Regions from separate parts of the Homo sapiens genome. Here region 1 is linked to region 2. Evidence: fine-mapped expression QTL. Tissue or cell type: lung. Region 2 holds a variant in brackets; the other region holds the start of a gene. All regions are shown on one strand. Distances are from middle to middle.

The links. PIP is the estimated chance that this variant, and not a neighbour inherited with it, causes the effect.
Region 1: COL6A5 starts here. The variant in region 2 is fine-mapped to the expression of COL6A5 in lung (TOPMed, PIP above 0.99).

The regions. Positions count from the first base shown.
Region 1 is chr3:130,341,931-130,348,974 of GRCh38, reverse strand. It overlaps COL6A5 (collagen type VI alpha 5 chain), which reads right to left and starts at 3,303. Exons shown (of 41, transcript NM_001278298.2): 1 at 2,994-3,303.
Region 2 is chr3:130,426,690-130,433,733 of GRCh38, reverse strand. COL6A5 (collagen type VI alpha 5 chain) reads right to left here. Exons shown (of 41, transcript NM_001278298.2): 32 at 4,150-4,161; 33 at 1,785-2,269. Among named protein-coding and RNA genes, the nearest start is that of COL6A5, 85 kb to the right of the region's middle. The variant T/C (reference allele first, on the strand shown) is at 3,513.

The sequences.
Region 1 (7,044 bases), 85 kb after region 2:
AGAAAAACAAACAACCCCATCAAAAAGTGGGTGAAGGATATGAACAGACACTTCTCAAAAGAAGATATGTGGCCAAAAACATAAAAAAAAGCTCATCATCACTGGTCATTAGAGAAATGCAAATCAAAACCACAATGAGATACCATCTCACGCCAGTTAGAATGGCAATTGTTAAAAAGTCAGGAAACAACAGATGCTGGAGAGGATGTGGAGAAATAGGAACACTTTTACACTGTTGGTGGGAGTATAAATTAGTTCAACCATTGTGGAAGACAGTATGGCGATTCCTCAAGGATCTAGAACCAGAAATACCAATTGACTCAGCGATCTCATTACTGGGTACATATCCAAAGGATTATAAATCATTCTACTATAAAGATACATGCACACATGTTTATTGAAGCACTATTTACAAATAGCAAAGACTTGGAACCAACTCAAATGCCCATCAATGATAGACTGGATAAAGAAAATGTGGCACATATACACCATGGAATACTATGCAGCCATAAAAAAGAATGAGTTTATGTCCTTTGCAGGGACATGGATAAAGCTGGAATCCATCATCCTCAGCAAACTAACACAAGAACAGAAAACCAAACACCGCATGTTGTCACTCATAAGTGGGAGTTGAACAATGAGAACACCTGGACACAGGGAGGGGAACATCACACACCAGGGCCTGTCAGGGAGTTGGGGGAAAGGGAAGGGAGAGCATTAGGACAAATGCCTAATGCATGTGGGGCTTAAAACCTAGATGATGGGTTGATAGGTGCAGTAAACCACCATGGCACATGTATACCTATGTAACAAACCTGCATGTTCAGCACATGTATCTCAGAACTTAAAGTAAAATTAAAAATAAAAAAGAATGGTTCCTTGGAGAATGGCAAGTGGCAATGGTTGTGGGTAGTGAGTTGTGTGCATGTTAGGGAATAGGCCAGAGGAATTTAGGGAAGTATCATAAAGCACCAGGGATTGATGGGGCAACAAAAATGTTTGCAACTGCCACATGCACCACCAGTCAGCCCTTCCTCATAAAGTAGGCATGCATCTCGTTTTATCTTAGATCCCAACTTTGCCCAGTGCCCAACTCCTCTTCCTTTGCACTTTCCACTTGCTCAGTGTGTACTGGATCTGAGATCCTACAAGATTGACAGGGGCATCATCAAAGCAAACTGCAATACCAAGAAAAGTACACATTCCAAGTGAATTTGTGCCCTCCACTCTCAGAGCTGGAGGATTCTGAGTATATGCTCCGGGGTTGAAAATTCTTCCTTTTTGGAAGATGATTTGAACTTGAGGAAGGAAAATCACAACATGAAATACAATGCAAACAAGACATATGTGTCAGCCTTACACTTCATTATAGAAGGATGCTAAGCATATGCTCATTGAATACTTATGAACAATTTCTGCATGTAGCTATGATTCAAGATGGGAAATATTTACAGTGGCAAACTTTATTTTCACAGGCTCATAACATTGCTAGCAATGGCTCCCAATTTTACTGACATTTCCAAAGTTCTTTTCAAACAGAGAGGTGATTAGTTTTTGAAATCTGTGAAAAAGCCTTTTAGATGTTTTAACTTAATATATATATATAAAATAATTAAATATAAAATCATTGTATTGAATGTTTTCTATGCTTTAACATATTAATAATAGTTCAATATCATAACCACACAGGGTCCTCCGGGGAACTACTTTAAGATAATGCTAGCAGGTTCCCTATCAAAACCTTACATCCTGCACCCACCCATTGAAGAAAAGGGAAAACTGAGAAATATCTGCAAATAAATTTGCTCCAGAGTCTCCAAGTAAGTCAGCAGTGGATTTAGATTTCATATTTTAAGTTAAGCCACTGAAAGGAGAATAATAATAACAACACAAAACCATTCATTCGTCATCAAAGATTAATGGCTCAGGTTCTCAGCAGTGATGAAGAGCCTGCCTCATCTGAAGGAGTTATTTAAAAACTTGGGAATTATCTTCTCTACTTTAATTCATATGAAATCTCAGGATTCCTACTTATTCTATTGGTAAATTGTAGCACTGTAAACTTAAATAGAAAAAATGGAAAAAAATCTTGCAGTGTGAATTTTTTCTTAAGGATTTTTGTTCAGAATTCACAAAGTAAATATATATCTTCCAAGATACCTAACCTGACACCCTGAGTTAACAATGATTAATTTCAGAACAAGCAGTTGAATACCAAAAAACAAAATAAATGTGATGTATGAAGCACTACATCAACTTATGAAGATCCTGGTAAGAGAAATAACACGCTACCAGCTTGGGGATCCTGAGAGTACAAAATTCCCTCCAGCACTTTGAAAGAACCTTACCTGGAGACTTGCACACAGTACAAACTCAGAAATAGTTGTTGAAGCTCTGAGTGCTGTTCTTAGGAAATCTCAAAGATCACAGTTTCGTTTGGGACAGAATAGAATTCCCACAAACCAAGAGTGTTTAGAAGTTATTTTTATAACTGAATACACCCCAGTATCTAATGCCTTTGACTCATTACCTACACACCCATTGCTGTTTATTTGGGGGTTCCTGCATTGGGGCTAGGGGCTCAAATGTAGGACTAAGTGACTTCTAAGGCAATGGTTCTCAAACTTTAGCTGCATCAGAATCCCGTGGAGGATTGTTAAAATACACATTCCTTATCCCCATTCCCAGAGATTCTGGTTCAACAGGGTTTTGTGGGGTCCAGGAATTTGCATTTCTAACAAGTTTCAAGGGCAAGGCGATGCTATTAGTCCTTGCATCACACTTCGGATAGCACTGCTCTAAGGTCCTTTCGAATTCTGAGTCTACCTTTCAGAACCTGTCTTAACCATCTGTAAAATTCCTTAGAGCTCAGATTTGGGGGCGTCAACAGGTGCAAATCACCAGAAAGGAGAATCCTTCTCACATCCACCTGTCTACTCGAGGTTTCCTCCCCCGCCTGCCTCAGGCCCCAAGTCCCCGCACCGCATACTTACCCAGCTTTCCCGGGGTCAGGGGACACTCCGGACCCTGGAAACCGCCCCCAACTCTCCAGAAGAGGCTGCACCGAGCTCCTGAGCGCAGTAAACGCGCGCCTCTCGGGCGCCCGCGGCGCAGTTGGATAGAGCGCGCGCCGGAAGCCCTGGTCCGCGCCGCACGCCCTGGTCCGCGCCGCACAGCTGCAGGTGGATTCCCGCAGCGAACGCCTCGTGCCCTGAGAGGGTCTTTTAAGCCGGCGCTGACCCGTGCCCTTGGCCTGGCTCTTCCCTGGGGCTTTTAACTCTTCACAAGTTTTAATGTGAGTGTCCAGAGACGCTCCAGCTGTTTGCTGGCTTTGTTTCAGAGAAGCCGCCGGCTGCCAAATGAACTTAGGGAGTCAGAATTTCTCAGAAACCAAGGGCAATCTTTACTAGCAGCCGAGCTGCGGTCACTTCTACTACTTAGACAGAGGAATCGCCATTTGGCTCCAAGTCCCCCAATTTCTCAGAGGCAGCCTCCCAACGAAAATGCCCAAGGAGGAGCAAAGTCCTGGGGGAAGCCCTACAAGAGAAAAAGTAACGCACCCCTGATGCTAGAGGCAGCAGGAGTTTTATCCAGCAACTTCTAGAAAGGGCAGGATGGGGAAATGGAGCAGGCAACACAATGAAGTTGTGATTTTTAGTACATGGATCATAGTGAAGAACTTGGAAAGCATAGACTATTCTTACATGCATGGCTTATTTTTTGTTGGTTTGCATGGACGTGTACTCAGGTTGAGATTTTATATTACATATCTGTATAACACCTGCCAGTAAATGTACTCCTAGCTTGAGTGGTTAAGTTCAATCAATCCATTGCTTCAGCCTGCTAGCTTCTTCAGGCTGTCTGTGAAGAGATATGTTACAATTACTTACACTGATGAAAGTTTATTAAAATGTCAAGAGGAAACATAAGACATGGGAGCTCACCCTTGCTCAGCAAGAACCCGATTCTGAGATTGCTTCTGAAGTTAACTAGAAAGTTTCTAAATATGTGTTAGAAAGAGTGGGTTGGAAGAATGAAGAGAGGGAAGTGTAATGAGGACTTTCAGGATTTTCTCCTTTTATTATTAAATTTTTTTTTTTCAAAGAGAACACAAATATGTGTAAACCAAAAACTGTTTGTTTTTTTTGTTGTTTTTCATTAATAAGAAAAAACTGATGTAAGTTGAAAATGGTTTTTCTAAAAAAAAAGTGTATTTTATCTATTTTGAATTCACTTGGAATAGTCAGGGTTATGGGGTGTTCTGCACAGAACATCCTGAAATCCTGGATTTGAATGCCAAGACTTGCCCTTCGGTATCAGTGAGTCTCAGATTTGTCCAGGTTTTAACGGAAAATGTTCCATTGGTCACCAGAGTGAAGCACAGAGAGAATCTATGGGCTGGAATATCAAGAAGCTAGAGTCTGGGGGGACAAAATATACATCTATTTCACATTCATGCCTGGCCCAGGCCGAAATTTTGCTACTATGATGTCCACATACCCTCAGTGTGTAAAGATTTATTAATTGAGATGTTCTTCCCCAACCAAGAGTAATGCCCCAAGGGAGAAAGAAGGCCTACTTTATACTTCAGGAGAAGGGTGGGGTTTTGCCTTCACAATTAGGGTAATATCCAAATAGTACTGAAGCCAAAAGGAAGTTGTGGGTTTGTGTTTTGGGGGTTCTTTTGTTGTTTAGAAACTTCTCTAGAAAGTATTATTGTAGAAATTTTTTTACTTGCAATATATTTGTGATTTAACTTTCACAATCATGAAATAAAAGTGGCTCCAGGAATCTACAACTTTTCCACAGATTTTAACATTTCCTTTCCTTTCTTCTGCTTATAAAATTGAAACAAGGTTTTCCCAAAATAAATCATAATGTGAAATTTATTCACTATTTAGAATTGCATTTATTCTATTAAGGATATATTAACTTAATTTACTTCAGAAAGTAGAAGTTTGGAGTTTAATATCTGAAGGAATTCAGGCACTAAAAGTGCCAACTTTTCAATTTTCTAACAGAATAGAACACAATTGAACTTACTTTATCTGACTTGGGTTTCACTTTCCATTTTCTCTAGAAAATAAAAAGATATTGAATAAAAGAAAAGTAATCCAGAATTTCAAAAGTGTGGAAAAGACATTAAATTTTTTTTCAGGCTTCATCATTAGTTATATTTGCCTTTTATTAACCCAACCTTCATAATCTGTATTTCTGCAGCTGTTTTAAATAAGAAGATAACATCAGAGTAAAAGATAGCAAATTCTGCTCTACCCTGCACTCGTTGATTCCCACTGGGAAATATTGATGGTATGTCTGCAAATGTGAAAACCGTACTATCAGAAATAGGCAAGATGATTTTGGATGTGAGATGATTTAAATGGAATATGATTAACTTTCTCATTGATGCAATCAGAACTATTAAAAGATAAAATAGCATTTTTCTTACATGTGACTCAATGTCCTTTGGTCATGCCTATATACCAACAGATAAAAAGTTAACAATTAAAATGCATTATCGATAACTGAAGCCAAATACTTTCCTCTCTGTGTACTAAATAATATTGGAATATAGTATACTTTACTTTCTCTATGTTTAAGCCATGCCGAAAATAAGCAAAAATGACTTAGCTACTTGCTTTAAGAAATACTTGCTCCTAATGGACAAGGCTGTGACTAATCAAAGTGGCTTACTTATCTATATCAACCAGCTTGCTCTAGAAGACTTGTTTCAACTCCTTCATCTCCCCGTGTCCAACAATTTAAAGCTATCATGTCACGAACTCTGCCAAACCCAAAGAGTTTTCCGTCTTGCAAAACCCACCTGAAATTCACCCAGTCTAGGACCTAAACCCTATAAATATCCTCCCTGGGTTCCTTTCTGAGACACTACTAAGACTGTCAATGTTGTGTTTACCTTTACTGCAGTAAGTTGGATCAACAGGTTTTTCTGATAGTCTTCTGGAAAACACAACAGTTGGCAGCACACTGTAATCATGGCTTATTACTTCATGTTACAGTATCACAGTGGAAGGTGAAGCCAACAGTGTGTGGATGGTTGGGGGTCGTAGAGTCAATAAAGCCTTAATGAGAGGGTGACATGAGAGGTGGGTCTGAAAAAGTCCTAAGTTCAACTCTGCAAGACTGGGGAGCCAAGTCTCATGAGGAGAAACCCTCCACCTCCAACAGCAATTGGAACCAGAAAGCAATGTCTGTACTGGATATCCATCTGCTTTTTTTTTTGAATTCCTGAAATTACATTCCCTTCCCCCTCCTAGGAAACATTTATTCTATCTCTACAATCCAAAGACAAATGCTGTTTTGCCAGGGTCCCATCTCCCTAGCCACAGTTCTTTGGGGATGGCCCTTGACCCAAGTTTGACCAGTCAGCCCTAGGATCCCAGGTTCAAAAAAACTGGGTTTCCATTCCTCAGAAGATAAATGTGACCCTGAAGGTTGATGGAAACCACATTCCAGTCACTGTGAAAAAAGTCTATCTAAGGATTAGAGTTGACATGTGGAGAAGAGAGATGGAGAGCTTCAGGGGGTGTTAGAATCTCAAATTCTAGTTATCTTTAATACTTTGTCCTTCCCTCAAGGTGTGCTCATTGGTGAGGAAATAGCCCTCCTTGGCCTAACCTAATTAAGCTGTGTTTCATTCAATAAAATATAATTGCTATTCACCTAGTTAATCGTGGTTGTATTAGTGAAACCATATCTTACTCATTTTTGTATCTCAGAACCGTCTTGAAGTAACTTAAAAATAAAAGAGCACCATAATAGGAAAAGTAAACAGTAATATTATCCATTTCCATTTGAAATAAAGAGCTAACCACAGGAAACTTCAGAATATCTCATGTCCCGCTCAATGAATGAAGTCACATACTTAAGTACACACCACATACAAGGTTCAACAACCACTGCTAAGCAAGTGGACAAGTTCTCAGTACATCAAGTCACCAAGGAGGGCTTGTAGGAGTAGCTCAAATTTCAAAAAACATGCAATGCCTTAAACCAATGCTGTCGGGATATTAAAATTAATAA
Region 2 (7,044 bases):
GTAAAATCCAGTGTGGGTAAGTATGAGGGGAAACAGACACTCTCAGACACCAAGGGTAGCAGCTCTATGCCTTCAGATTTGAAGCAGTGAGGACTTGATGAAGAGGATTGGAAGGAGGGAATTGAGAGAGGGGGACAGAGAGGAGGATGTCCTGAGTGGAGAAGAGTGCAAGGCAGGGAAGAATAAAGAATGACTAAAGGGAGCACTGCTCAAGGCGTGATATGCAGTCAGAATGACTGTGTGGGGTTATTATCTGGCAAGAGCAGAGTGATGAGAACCAGATAGCTTCCTGGGTCACCTTCTCTGTAGATATGATGCAAATTTAAAATGATTTGTTAACAAGAATGACTGGAGACTCTTTCTCATTGGGGATTCTGAGGGCTTTGGTGCAGTCCTATCTGAAGATAAGGATTAAATTTGATGTCTTATTAAGATTTCTTGTATTCTGGAATTTTATGCAACTCTCAAAGCTGAAAGTCACTTATTTTCCCCAGAGAGAAAAATTAAGGAGGCAGAAAAATTTCAAAAAGAAAAACTGAAAACCACAGGACTTTGACTTCCTGCAATCCTTTTTGTCAGGATCTGTTGTAACTCTCTGTGGCTCCTATTTCCAAAAAACGCTTGGATGTGTTAGGAACAGATTGATTCTCTCCATGTTATAGAGAGATTCTTTCTCTTTATATGGTAGAAATTGTACATTTTTTATAAAAATAGACCTTTATAATCTCTTGAAGGACATGATGGCTTTACACAGCTCCAGAAGAATGTATTTTATGGATAATCTGAATATACTGAAAAGTTGTTGAACAGATGAAGAGGTTTTTAAGTTTCTTAGGAGGAAGGGAAGGGGAGCACTGATCCCTTGAGAATCTGTGGATCCAAAAGTGACAGGACCTCTTTTGGGAAAAATGTTCATATACATCAAATGTTTTGCACCACCATAGGGGTTCAAAGATCCCCTGAACTTCTTCCATCACTGGTTAAGGCCAGCTGTTCTGTGAGCAACAGCAAGCAGATAACAAATTTGAGAAACACCAGAGCAGTAGAGGGCTGGCAGGGCAGCATGTTCATGGTCCTTTCTATCACATAGACCTAAGTTCGAATCTCAATTTAGCCACTTAGTAGTGGTATATAGTTAAGTCACTAGAAATCCTCTGGGCCTCAGTTTCCTTTTTTTTTTTTTTTTGACAGAGTCTTTCTCTGTTGCCAGGCTGGAGTGTAGTGGCGCCATTTCGGCTCACCACAACCTCCAACTCCCTGGTTCAAGTGAGCCTCCTGTCTCAGCCTCCTGAGTAGCTGGGATTACAGGCACGCGCCACCATGCAGCTAATTTTTGTATTTTTAGTAGAGATGAAGTTTCACCATGTTGGCCAGGATGGTCTCGATCTCCTGACCTCATGATTCGCCCGCCTTGGCCTCCCGAAGTTCTGGGATTACAGGCATGAGCCACCGCGCCCAGCCCCAGTTTCCTCATTTTTAACATGGAGACAACAGCTGCATTGACCTCCGAGGGCTGTGAGAATGTATGAATACATATGGAAAGCTCTAGGGACAGTGCCTGGCATACAGCACGAGCTGAGCAAATGTGGTTGCTGTTATCATTGACTGTTGTTATTATTCAGGATTGGATTTCACAGACATTGACAACAATATAGCTGTGAAAACTGTAAAGGAGTTTTCAAGAGGCCACATATATTTCTTGACTCTCTACCACTCCCATCCTGCCCTATCACAATACCTACCTCTATCTTAAAATTAAAGAAGTTGCCAAGAGAAATTCTTACCCCAAAAGCTTCAAGGAAAACTCTCTCATCAAAAGCAAAGACTGTTGGACTGATATCCAGGGCACTAAACTCCATGGTGGCCGTGATGATGGATGACCTACTGGCTGTTTGACCATTGCTAAAAAACACAGCAACTCTCCTCACGTTGGCTCCTGCATACGTCCGCTTGAACACGTTGCGGGTCACAAACCTCATTGCATTACCAACATCTCGGGGCTCTGTGGTGTCTTGATATTTTATTTGGGAAAGCTGCTGGAGGAGCTGCTTCTTCCTATTGTAGTCAGACCAGCGGATGAGATAGCTGGTGCCTGAGTTATAGGAAACCATGGCAACTCTTGCTCCCACAGGACAGTTATTTTCCCTGATGTTAAGGTCATTGACAATGGAAGTGATGATGTCCCGTGTTTTATTAAAGCTCTCTTCTGTGACATCGTAGGAATTGTCCAGAGCAAATACTAGCTCTGTTGGATATGCTGGACATTTTTCTAGAAAAAAGAAAAGCAGAAGTATTAAGTTATTTCACTGGATCAAAATCCTTTCCCCAACTCTTTACTCCAATGAAGTGGGTTCATACAGAGGCAAAGCAAGTGCTTCATCCAGCTCTAGAACTAAAGGTACCCATGTGCAAAGAAAGGAAAGAAATCTGGCCTGCAAACTTGAAGCTGTTAACATAAATGCAGAGCATGAATATTTGGCTATATAATGCTCAGACTTCACAGCCCACTATCAATCAGTCAGCTGTGTAAAATGAAATTGGTGGGAGTTCTTGAGCTGATGGAACTCTTCTGTGTCCTGACTGGGATAGTGGTTACATGAATCTACACATTTGGTAAAACTGAACACATACAAAGAGAAATAAATTTTACTGTGTGTAAAATTTAAAAATGAATAAAAATAAATTATAGCTTATTGGAGATCTTGAAAATCTGCTCTCCCCCAAAATCTTCTGAAATGATCTATTAATTATAAAGATAGATGTAAGATTTCCATCCACTTATGCAACAAATATTTGAGTACCTACCACATGAAATGCAGCATAACATTCACTGTGAAATGCATGCAAAGATGAATCAAGTGCAGCACTGCCTTCGAGGAACTTGTATTGGCAAGGATCATTATACTATAAGGTACAGAGTAAAGATTATTCTTAATGAGGATTCAGAGGATAAAGAGGCTGTTTCCAAAAAGGGGCTATCTCAGGGGCTTCAGGAAAGCTGGCTTTCAGTGAAGGCCAGGGTGGCAAGAGGAAGGAAGCAACGGGAACCAAGAAAAGTTTGCAATAAGCTCTTATAAAAATGGGACTATCTGCCATTCCTAGCTCAATACTCATGTCTTATGATGACTGAACTTTAGAATTTCATAGAAAATCTACCCTATGTATCAAACCTCACTTTTCAATGTCCTTGTTAAAGTCTGAACACAGGAAGAGAAAAATGATTTTTCTTTTAATAAGCACTTCCATCTGCTCAGGCTGTTCTCTATCCCCAATCTGGCTAACTCCCAAAGCATATTACACTCAAAATATCCCATATCCCAACCACTGTTCTTAGAAATAAAAATAGAGAAGTATTCATTTAGAGAAGTGTTTTGAATCAAAGAATTTTACCATGAAGAAATTTCAGTAATTTTAAAATATGAAAGCTGATAATAAACAATAGAATAAGAAAAATGAAAGATATATTTAATCCAAATCCATGAAGTTGTATTGAGCACTTACTCTTTGCAAGG[T/C]ATATTTTTGCAGAATTAAGGTGAATGGCTCCAAACTTGCACCGAGCTTAAAGACCCTGAGGGTCTACATCAGCAGGCCTCTAGGAGACCAGGAGGTTTTGAAATTGACATAGCCACTGGCTCCAATGGCCTTGCCACCCAAGGGCTCTAAGGTGCCATGCAGCCCCGACTACAGGTTAGGCCCTGGGAAGACCATCCACAGCCATGGGCAGGAAAGGTTTACAAGTAGTGGGCACTCAGTGAGATGACAGGTTTGAGTGTGGGCCAGAGGGAGGAAAGGGCACATCTCACACCCAAGAAGCCAGTGTCAAGGGCGTCAGCAGCAGACAGAGCAACAGAACGTGGATTAGTCAGAGAGCCATGTTTACTGAATCCCCCAGCAGCACAGGGCCAGCACTGGGGAGAAACTGACTTGTAAACTGTGATGGGTCCCAGGCTAGGGGCTGGGATTCAGTCACCATTTCATAAACAGGTCAATCATGACACTGACAATTACAGTCATAATCAAAAGAAAGAACTGTCTGCATAGAAGGAAGAAGTCCTGTTTCCCACGGAGTTGAGGGCATCTTTCAGATTGGTCTTGTTGGAATGCAGCAGTAATGATCTCAGCAGGGAACAGCATGGTAAGAATACTCACCTTTCCAGCAAGCTGTGAAAAGGAGAGAGGGAAAAGTTTGTTACCTTCTTGAAACAAGACTAAAAATAGTTCAAAAAACAACATTTTAACAAAGCTGAAAATGTTATTTGAGTCTAACTGCAAATGAGGCTAATTCCTAAGTGACAGGAAGCCAAGGTTAAAGTATTGAGGAAGATGTCAACAGAATTTTATTAATTTGTTAGCCTTCCTAACCTTTTCCATTTGTGAGCCACAGCCAGCAGACTTTAGCAGAATTTTGGTTGAAACTGAAACACTGATCACTTGTCTTAGAAGCAAAAACAGATGAGCCTCTGATTAAACAGCAAGATAGCTGAAATTCAATTTGTTTTGCCTCATCTTATAGCCTTCTGAGAGTCATTCAGCAATGCAAGGCTAAAATACGGGGTCTTATTTTCTTCCCTGATGAATATCTTGGGAGCCTTTATTTTCCCATACAACCATAGGGGGATTTCCAAGTGAATTTTGTCTTTGATAAAAAACAGCTCCTCTGTTTGAGTGATCTCCACATCCAGAGGGAGGAAGAAAAAACCCCAAGCGTTTCTCCTGAGCAAAACAGCATCTGGTTCCCTCAACTGAGAGGAATCCGGGAAAGTATTGATACATCTTTAAGAAACCACAGGCCTGACAATTTCCATGTTCATTTCACTCGATTCCTAGGAAGCAAATGAGTCACTCCAATATAATAAAAGATATTATTAATACTGGCAACGCACCAGCCTTCTGTCTTGCTGTCGTGCAACAGTGGTCCTCTGCCATCCACCCTTGTGAACACCTCTTGTTTGTCTTAACCCCATGGCCCCTGGGATGCTAACTGCCATCAGACAGCACACATAACCCACAGCCTCCTTTGCATCTGTAGGCTCAAAACAGACCCCTTTTTCCTGACTGAGTACTTCCACGTGTTAACTTCAAACATAGCTGCAAGGCTACAAGCACAGGTCGTAGAAGCAGAAACCCCGCTGGGTTTGAGTCTGGAAAAGCTGGGTGACTTAGGGGGAAATTACTTAAACTCTTTTGAACAATTTCTTTAAAGTTGATTTTTCCTAAAAATCTTTACTTATGTGTCTCCCTCCAAAATGCTAATCACTTGGGCCCTTCTGTTTTATTCTCAACCACCCCCTTTCTCTCTTAATTTCCCCCAGCCTTCTAGACACCTTCTTTTATTTTCCAAAGACAGTCTCAGCCTGGCCCTCATCCCTGTATGTCACAGAGCTGCTACTGGACTGAGGAGCAAATGATGTTAGATGAGAAGCCTTGGAAATGTCAGCTATTAAGTGAGGCCATTTAGATCAGCTCTAACGGCCTGTTGCCTGCATCTTAATCTCCAGTCTGCATCCTGGAGTTCCGTGTTATCCAATCAGTGCCCTGTGTGGTTATAGAACTTGCCTACTCTTCTCTGACCTCCTGATTTATGGGCTAATTCCTTTTATTCTATGTTGGAAAACTTCTCCCTTCAAATCCCAAACCCTCCAATGCTGGTCCTCACCTCCCCAGCCCCTTCCACCTACCTTTGGTCTTCTTTGGGAAGACATAATTTGATTTCACTGAGAAGACTGGCAACATGAGGAAAGTTGATCCCACATTCATTTCTCCTACAATGGTTCTTCCCTTTTTCTCTCCCTGTGGTCCCAGTCCCTAGTTCTCATCTCCTCGTGTGCTGAAGGGCCTTTCCCACTATCTCCTCCCTTTGAACCTCCTCTCCATTGCCTCCTTCCTCTTGCCTCCTTGCAAGCTGCCCACATTTGGCAGGACTCTCCCATCTCTGTAATGCCATTTTTCTGTACCTTGGCCCCACTCTTTTTGCCAAGAAACAGAAACTCCTTGAGATTCTGTTTCTGACTCTCTAATTTTACATTTGGAGAAACCTCATGCATCCATGTGTTTTGAAGGACCACCAGCACTGAATGACTTCAACATCTGAGTCTCCTTCCCTCACCTTTACTAAAGCCCCATTTCACTGGGGTCGATCGTTTCATGTAGGGTCTACACAAGATTCCTCTACCCCTAAAATATGTAAACTAATCATCTTCTCCAACCAATTGATTTCCCTTCACAATTCCTCCTCTGCTTACTCATCCTTGGTGACACTCAGCCTCTCCCCTGCTAGCCTGACGGTTATTCTAAACTTGCTTTTTTGCTGTTCTTTCCTTGCCACATACTTGCAATGACAACATTTTTATCTAGTCTCCTTCAGTAAAGTTTCTGATTTTCCCCTTTTACATTCTTCTGATTATGATTATTTAAAAACCACAATGGAAACATAATGAAGAAACACAGATCTCCTAAAATTCCACCTCCTTGAACACAGTAAATCATTGTTTTTCTACTTTTGCTTCTAGTACTTGTTTCTATGTATGTATTTACCTACCTGCAAAAATAATGAGGATTCAATTTCATTTTATAATATTTAATGCCTGTATTTTTCAAAGTTTGATTGTCTTCATAAAAACTATATTTGGTTAATATTTTCTCAGAAGATGATATATTATAACCTAATTATTCTATAAGTGTAAACAGTCTAAATGTATAATCATTTTGCTTTAGCAAATAATATTCCAACAATCATATATTTACCTATATTTTTTCTTTCTTTTGCTGTATTTCCTTGGGACAAATTTTCAGAAATTATATTACTGGGCTTTTCTACCTTATTTTTCCTTCTTTATAACCAAAGACAACCTCTTTATGTTGACTCCTGCTTTATTCCTTTTCTGAAACTATTTTTTGCCACCCCCATCACTTTCCCATAGCTGGATTCAGTTACCCCCATGCAAACATCCTTTATTAACTGAGTAACCGACTAGTCCCAAACCCCCATGATCATCCCTTTAACAACATGCCCTCCCAGTCCTTTCGCTCATAACTGTTATACTA